3 separate regions of the Homo sapiens genome follow, and all the other regions are linked to region 3. The links come from fine-mapping of genetic effects on gene expression. A gene starts in region 3. Each other region holds a variant in brackets. All regions are shown on one strand. Distances are from middle to middle. Region 1 overlaps SEC22A (SEC22 homolog A, vesicle trafficking protein). Region 2 has its middle 19 kb from the start of MIR7110. Region 3 holds the start of SEC22A (SEC22 homolog A, vesicle trafficking protein).

Region 1 (2,763 bases), 73 kb before region 3:
ATATTGATTTCAAAAACTCTGAGAACTAAGGCTGATCTCTGAGTTTCCTAAAACCCCCAATTGTGCTGAGACGACTGATTACACATCAGCATTGCCAACGCAGAAGAAACCTGAATGCCCACGCATCAACACCACTCACTGTTAACAAGCAGGAGCATATGCGCCACGTGGCTTCCAACCACACAGTGTTTCCACGTTTCTTTTGATTTCATCTACTAAATAACCTAGAAAACTCAGCCACTCAAGAAAGAGACAAGAGTGGCAGCCAGTTTTTCTCTTTGAAAAACTCGATGCTTAAACAGGAGGCCGCAATCTGCCAGCATTCAACAGCAGCCCCAGAACATTAATGATCACACACCTCCAACCTTACCGGTAATGCTCAGAGTGACATTCTCGGCTCACTCAGCCCTTTTACACAAACTCAGTCACAACCCTTGGAGCTGGGTTTCTTTTGTTAACTTTTAGCGAGGTTATTACTAAAGCCAATTTAACCCTAAAATCAGACCTTACTTTACCACAGCATTTTTAGGGAGAAAGACTTTGGTTCCTTAGAGATAAGGCAGAAAAATACTATAAAGCATTGAACACAGACAAAGAATGTGGCCCTAAAGAGTGACCTATAACTTGTGGTTAAGGCTAAGTGTTCAATGAGGTTTTGAGTGGTGGCTGCTCTTGAACGTATGTGTTCTTTTACCACACACTCCACAGAAGTTCTAACTCTTACAGTGAGCCAAAAGTCTGTTAAAATAGTAACAAGGAAGGTGTACACACACACACAACCTTTGTTGAGTTCCTTGGAAACCCAACAGCTCAGAGTATGACCTTAGGTCACTTAGTAAACCTTTTGAAATGAAGGCCAAGCAATTGCCTTTTAGGGGAGCAGCTGACCTCAGAAGCCACGGAGGTTAGGTCCTTTATGACAAACTTCTGGTCTCTGTGGAGCCCTGATGAAGTAGGAGTCTAATGGGGTTCCACACGTGGCCTAACAGAAATGGAGCTGTCCATCTCTCCACACTAGATTCCACTGTGGAGACATTTACTGCAATATAAATGTGCCAATCCAAGGATAGCACACTCACTTTCAATCTTATAATTCTGTAATACAGAATTGGGTAAAGGTTCTCC[A/G]TGTCTTAAGGCATTTGTCTCAAATGATTTTCAAGCTTAATACTTGTTTTCAGCTTAGGATTCTTACCTATGAAAACAAAATCCTTTATTAACCACACCTACACAAATCCCCCCAAATCCTGAAATGGAAGCCTTTGAAAGCTGGTACAAGGTAAGGATCCAAGGCACAATCATAACATGTAAATGTGTGAAAATCGAGAATTCTGTTCATTTTAGCACTTCACAGGACCCCCAGTGAGAACACCTTTACTAGAAGGCATCAGGAAAGGCTCTCCCCTAAGGAACTGGTATGCTTTTCACCTACTGATAGGGCAGTGCATAACTTCTTTCCCTACCCTTAGCCTTGATTTCCAGAAAGTTCCAGAGTCAAATTTTACATACAATAATGTATGTAAACCCTCCCTTCAATTTTCATTTGTTTTTCTTCCCTTTCTGTTCATATTTCATTAACATGGCTGTATATGTCTTTTCTTGGTATGCTGCTTCAAGTGCTTTTGGGAAAGAGGCCAGGTATTAATGTAAATATATTTCAAATACAGACTGAAAAAAGCAAGCAAATATTGCAATTATCTTAGTATATAAAAGAGGGTATCTTCGCTCTCATGGTACACCTTAATCAAAAAGCAGTATTTAGGAATTATCTAAATTAAAATAAAATACACCTATTAGGATAAAATACTCCAGCAGCAGGCCTGGACTCACCAATTTCAGAACCCCTCAACTCCTTGGCTTTACCAAGAACAGTCATATTCCCTGAATATAACACTGGTCACCTTCACTAGTTCCATGCTAGTGCGAAGAGCCCTGCACTAGATCAGGGTTGTGTGTGCTTAGCTATGTGAACTGGCTAAGTCATTACCATCTGATCACCTCTGTGTCCTCCCCCTTAGAGTGAGGGCAGCTACTACTGCTCCTATGCTACAAAACTATGAGGAGGTAAACTCAGGCTTGCTCTTAGAAGTGCAATAGAAACAGAAGATCATACACCATGGAGGCCTAAAGTGATTCTTTCTAAAGAGCCTAAGGACTTTTTTTTTTTTTTGAGACAGAGTCTCACTCCGTCACCCAGGCTGGAGTGCAGTGGTGTGATCTCGGCTCACTGCAACCTCCGCCTCCTGGATTCAAGCGATTCTCCTGCCTCAGCCTCCCAAGCAGCTGGTACTATAGGCGCCTGCCACCACGCCCAGCTTATTTTTTTTGGTATTTTTAGTAGAGACGGGGTTTCACTATGTTGACCAGGCTGGTCTCAAACTCCTGACCTCGTGATCCACCCACCTTGAGCTCCCAAAGTGCTGGGATTACAGGCATGAGCCACCGTGCCCGGCCAGGACTTTACACCAATTTCTTTTTCTAAATTCAAAGTTCTTTTTTTGGCAGCAATGATACAGGTGGGGAAATGATATAAACACGGAGATACAGGCACCAAATAATGAAAGAAAACATTTCTATACATAAAACATTTATACCTGTTTTCATTTTTTTACATTAAGATGTAAACATCCTCTTATCCAAAATAGCCAGTGAAAAAATAAAAACAAAAACAAAGTAAGCCTTTAAAAATAGTTGGTGAGGAGTTTTCAAGTGTTCTTGCTGAATGTATCCGAATACCAAACATTGTAACTCGTCAATTCAATGACA
Region 2 (2,763 bases), 22 kb after region 3:
TTCATAGCAAATTATCATGACCAGTCCATTAAAACCCCTCTCTTTCTTTATATCATTTTTAAGCCCAATGCCATTCGCATTACTTGAAATGCATCAGTACACACAATGACATCACATATTCTTAAGGACATTCGTATCCTTACTTACAGACACATCTCACACACTGGTGAGGGAGATGCACATGGGGACAAAAGGGAATCTGTAAATTAAAAAAAAAAAAAAAAGCCAAGAGAGGGGCTACCTGTCCTGGCAGTGCTAATCGTGTCCCCAGGTTGGAAGGATGATGAGAGCAGCTCTCTGGAGAGGTGGTCCATGGACGTGAGAGCCAGGCAAAAATGATGGGCAGAAACCACGGAGGGTCTATCCAGACCTACAAGCAACACCATGAGGCCACAGGGAATTTGCTGGACATGGAGCAATCTTTCCAGGCCTGTCTGCCCTTCTGTCCACTTTGAGTGTCCAGTGTTAACACGTTCAGATCCTGGTACCTGGGTAGCTTCACATGGAGTCACCTGGCAATTCCTTAGGTTCCTAGAAATATAAACAGCCAGAGTCTGACTGAATTTTGTCACTGATTTATTTCAGGATTGATAAAAAAAAGTAAATTGTTCTCCCTAGAGTGGTGTTCTCCTAATACATTCCATCAGGAAAACGTTCTCTTTTTCTGTGGCCAACCACTATGAAGGTTGTAGATTTTACAGAAGAACCAGAACTGAGGGCCACATCCTGGACAGTCCTGGCCACGAGCTTAAGTGATGGGGCTTGTCTGTGGATTGTCTTTGTTAGAAAGATGGATGCAACTGTAGTGCTGGTCACCAATGCTGGTGACACACGGCCTCTAGAAGCGGGCTAATCCAGTGGGAATCCGGCCAGACCTGCCAGAAGGCATTTTATTTTATTTTTAGCCAATCTCCTCCACCTTCCAGGTAGTCATCCACCCATGTATCTCATATATATGTTGTTAAATACGCCTGTATCTTTATGAAATATGTGTTGTGTTATGGTATGTGTGTAATCATTTCTTTCCCATGGGTAGTAAATGACATTGCACAAAGTCTGATACAAAAGTCTGGACTAATTTTTAGAATGTTAAATAGACTGCTTCTTCCACAGGACTTTAAGGTAATGTGCTGATGAATAGACTATGCAACTTTATTGCGTTTATATGGTTTTCAATGCCCTTTGAAATGTGATTAATTCTTTTAAGGATCATGGACCCTTATGACACTTAGCTCATAAATAATTAAATCCAATTAATACTCCAGACTGAACTAAACCTAATTTATTTCAAGTTCCAGTTCCAGCAGAGGAGGCCTTGGTTCACTACTTCTGAAATAATATCACTACCTCACTCTATCTTCCCTTCAATTCATTTGAGTACTAAAACATAGGTGACAAAAAGGGGAAGTTATGCATGTAGAGTTTA[C/T]GTTAAAATATAGTATTTTATTAATTTGAAAAATGTTAAAATTCAGAAAAGTAGAGAGAATAGTAGAACAAACTGCATGCCTCCACATTTTTTCTTTAAAAAATAATTTATGAAGTATGAAATAATACATGAAAAGCCATTAAAATAATATAAAGAACATCACTATGCCCAGCCCTCAGATTAAAATCTTACAAATACGGTTGAAGGCACTTCCCTGACTCCATTCCCCTCCATTCTTTCACTGCCCAAATCACCGCTATTCTCAATTTTGTGTTTATTATTCCCATGCAACTCTTTTAGCTTTTACTACTCATAGAGGCATCCAAAACAATAGTATTGTTTTGTAGATTTTAAGCTTTGTATAAATGAGATCATACTCCCAATATCTTTCAACTTTTTAATTTTCAGTGATTTTTTTCTTGTTAATAACTATGGCTCTAATTCATTCCAACTCCACTGCCACCTGTTTTTAATTGCATGATTAAAATTTATTTTTGTGATGACCAACGACGTTGATTCGAACATTCTCAAACACATCCTCTTTTGTACATATGAAGGAATTTCTCTAGAATATGTGACCATGTGTTTATAGACAGCAAATCTAAGTTTAAAAAGAGCAAAAACTCAGCCTAATTTTTCCTTAATTATGTAGAGCTCTGTAAAATGGTAGAATATATGAGGCTTCTAATAAGACAGACCTGATAGTGATAAACCTCATATTCCATTGAGGTCCATTACTTTATACCTCTCAAATATAGTTTTTGAACCCAAGGTAATTTTATTAAGTTGGAAAAAAGTCTAAATTCAATCATTTATTTTGGTGTGAATTTTAAAAAGAAGAAAGAAAGTGAAAGAAACAAATATACATAGCAGCAAAATGGAAAGAAATGTTCTACCTACTGGCCTCCGCAGAGCTCAGAGAAAGGCCTCCCTCTGGCCTCCCCTAAGCATAGAGAAAAAAAAAAATAATCAGAATTAGGAATTCAAAATGCCCGGAAAGCCAAAAGAATGCTTCTTTCAACACTTTCTGCAAAAGCCGTATGAACTGGGGAGGCATCTTCTCCCACCTCCTCACTTACGACAACCTACCAACCTGCAGAGAGAGTGCCTTGCAACCGTGATGTGGGCTGAGAGTGGTGGTTCATAACCTTTTTTGCACTATGGATGCCCTATGACGACTACCACTAGCACTAATACCTCTACCATTCCTACTCCTATTGCTGACCTGCATTTATTGAGAGTTTGCCATATGCCATGTTAAGCAAACTCCACTTTAATGCTCAGAACAACCGAGTATGAAGAAATCATCATGCTGTTCTCTGTGCAGAGAAAGAAGC
Region 3 (2,763 bases):
AGCCATGTAAATTTGGACAAGCTTTGCCTTTCTATATCTCAATTTCCACATCTATATATTGTGGCTACTAATAGCATCTATCTCATAGGCTTGTTTTAAAGATGACAATAGTATCTATCTCATAGGATCATGTAAAGTGCCTGAAACATTGCCTTGTAACATGCTAAAAGCACTACATTAAATATTTGCTGTATTATTTATTGATTACTCTCCATGGACCACGCACTTTATACACATTACCTCATTTAAGCGTTCCAAAAACCTGTGAGATAGGTATTATTAGTTCCATTTTACCTTTGAGGAAATTCAAGCCCAGAAAGCTTGAGGAATTTTTTTTAATCCCTAAACGAGTAGGTGACAAAGTAGGGATTTAAACTCAGGCCCAATTCTAACAACTCTGTGAGACACTCAAGGAAGGTCACAGGCACCCCTGTGATAAGACCTAGGCCTCTTTCATATACCAACATAAGATATACTTCGATTTTAACCAGTTGCACGCAAAAAAAAAAAAAAAAAAAAAAAAAAAAAAAAAAGGCACTAAACAGATGTGATGGTTTTCAACATAGGAAATACCCGAATGTCCCATTACTTTAGGATATGGTCACAGGTGTCAGAGTCAAATACTGAATGAACCTTAATATATCAGAAATTGTAGGTACCGTTTAAGGCATTGCCTGATTCCTTACAATCTTAGCATGTAAGCAAATATCAGTAACATGGAAAGTGATTCAGAGTTTGAAAAGTGGCTGTTCCCCTGACTGAAGATCCCAACATCTCCAGTCTGGTGGCTGATACTTTTGCTCTGGGCTAGGCTTTGCCTTGGCTGAATAGGCATAGGAGGGACTGGTTCTCAAGCTCGCCCCCTGCCCCAGGTGGATGATCCAGGAAACTAAGCAGCAGGGAAAAATTATCTTAAGCTGTCTTCACTGGCAGAGAGATTCAAGCCAGCTGGGGCTTGTCCTTTTCTTTTGGAAGCCTCCTCCACTTGCCGAGCCAATTGCTCAGGTCTCCCTTCTGCCACATCGTTCCCAAAGTGACTCTTGAGACAGGGTCTCAAGAGATTTCCGTGAGCCAACGCGGGCAAATATCTGGGCTCAGGGCTCACTCCATCCCCACAAAACGTAAAGTAAGACACTGGTTCAAGTCCCATTCTGCCTAAAAGAAATAGGAAATGCCACCTCAAGCTCTCATGGGCCACCTACACAGGTAGATCACCGTGTTTCTGACACCTGGGCGCCAGGGAATCCCCACCACCATGCTGACAGCCAAGTGCGACTGTCCCTCCCCTTCAAACACTCCTTTCCTGGCTGCCCAACACCCGAGGCGGCTCAGACGAGGCGCAACCGCCGCCCGCCTGGCCCCAGAGAACCCTCAAGTCGAAGGGGACGGGGTCCCCGCTTGCCCGTCCCTCCAGAGCTCCGCGGCCCCGACTCCCATCCCAAAGGCACGGACTTGGCTCCTGCCCGTGGGGTAGGTCTTCAATCCCGAGGGCGAAGGCCGAGGCTGTGGCGAGAGGCAGGGAGCGGGAGGGGAGAGGCCGGCAGGGATTCGAACGACCCCTAAGAAAGGAAGAAGAGGACTGGGAGGGGCCGGGGAGTACCTGTCGAGACGGGACCCGCCGCTCCGAGTGACGCGCCCCGAAGTGCATTGTGGGGCCTGGGAGGGACCTTTCGGCGACGCTGCGGCGCGTCCAACGTGGCTCGCGCCCGCGGAATCAAACCACGCCCCCGTTCCCTCAGCTCACCCAGGCCAATCGGGTTCTGCAGGAAGGACACAACAACCCCCCAGCTCCCGGGGCCCTCCTTAGTCCCACCCGCTCCAGGAGAGATTGGCAGCTTCTCTCGCACCTGCGCCAGAAAAGTACAGCATCCTCTGATGACAGAACTACGTTGACTTCAGAAATAGGGCCAATCTCTTCCGCTCGCCGCCCTGTTTCTGCAGGCATTTTGTCTCTCACACGCGGCCCTACAGCAGACACTTATAAAGGGGACAGGGAGAAAAGCCCCCTCTGGGTGAGCAAGGAGAAGACCTGGCCCCGTCTATTCCCACACACAAGAAGGAAACTAACCATGGCAGAGAAGTGCCAGATGCTGACCCTGCGACCCCTTCCAGCCTTCGCATCGGTCATGCATTATTAAACAGGCATTTCCTGACTGTTTACCATGTGCCAAGCACCGTGTTAAGCACGGGGTTACAGGAGTGGACATAACACTTGATGGAATTTAAGGAGTAATTGGAGCAAGAGATATTAAAGCATAAATAGTTACAGAACTACAAATTGTCAGTATTGGGAGGGAAAATTAGTGGGTGCAATGATCAATTAATTTTGGACTATCAGGGAAAAGACTTCTGAATAAGTGCCTTTTAAGCGGCAGGCATATTGAAGAGCCTTAGAGAATGTTCCCCGCCAAGGAAATATTGTGTGAGGTTGTCGGGGCATGAAAGAACTTCTTGTGCTCTAGGAACTAAAAGGGAGTCAGTGTGGATGGAGTGTAGGGAGCAAGGAGAAACTTTGCCCGTTGACCTTAAGATATCTTCCAAAATACAGCCTGAAATCTGTAATGTGGCCAATAAGAGTCAGCATGGTCTGGCCCTTGTCTCATCTCAGCCCAAGGTCAATGGGCAGCTAATAAAGACTATTAAGTAGGATCCTATTTGCATATTTAAGAATCACTCAGGCTGTTTGTGGAGAATAGTGTGGAAAAGGGCAAGAAGGGCTGCTGGAAAGCCATTTGGAGGCAGTTGCGTCAGGCAAAGCCAGAA

The links. PIP is the estimated chance that this variant, and not a neighbour inherited with it, causes the effect.
Region 1: its variant is the best candidate, but not a certain one, in a credible set for the expression of SEC22A in whole blood (INTERVAL, PIP 0.83).
Region 2: its variant is the best candidate, but not a certain one, in a credible set for the expression of SEC22A in monocytes (TOPMed, PIP 0.77).

What each region holds. Positions count from the first base shown.
Region 1 is chr3:123,273,941-123,276,703 of GRCh38, reverse strand. It overlaps SEC22A (SEC22 homolog A, vesicle trafficking protein), which reads right to left. Exons shown (of 7, transcript NM_012430.5): 7 at 2,568-2,763. Among named protein-coding and RNA genes, the nearest start is that of SEC22A, 73 kb to the right of the region's middle. The variant A/G (reference allele first, on the strand shown) is at 1,126.
Region 2 is chr3:123,179,097-123,181,859 of GRCh38, reverse strand. No RefSeq gene overlaps it. Among named protein-coding and RNA genes, the nearest start is that of MIR7110, 19 kb to the right of the region's middle. The variant C/T (reference allele first, on the strand shown) is at 1,427.
Region 3 is chr3:123,200,824-123,203,586 of GRCh38, reverse strand. It overlaps SEC22A (SEC22 homolog A, vesicle trafficking protein), which reads right to left and starts at 1,644. Exons shown (of 7, transcript NM_012430.5): 1 at 1,601-1,644. RefSeq lists enhancers at 1,558-1,607, 1,848-1,927, 1,938-2,087.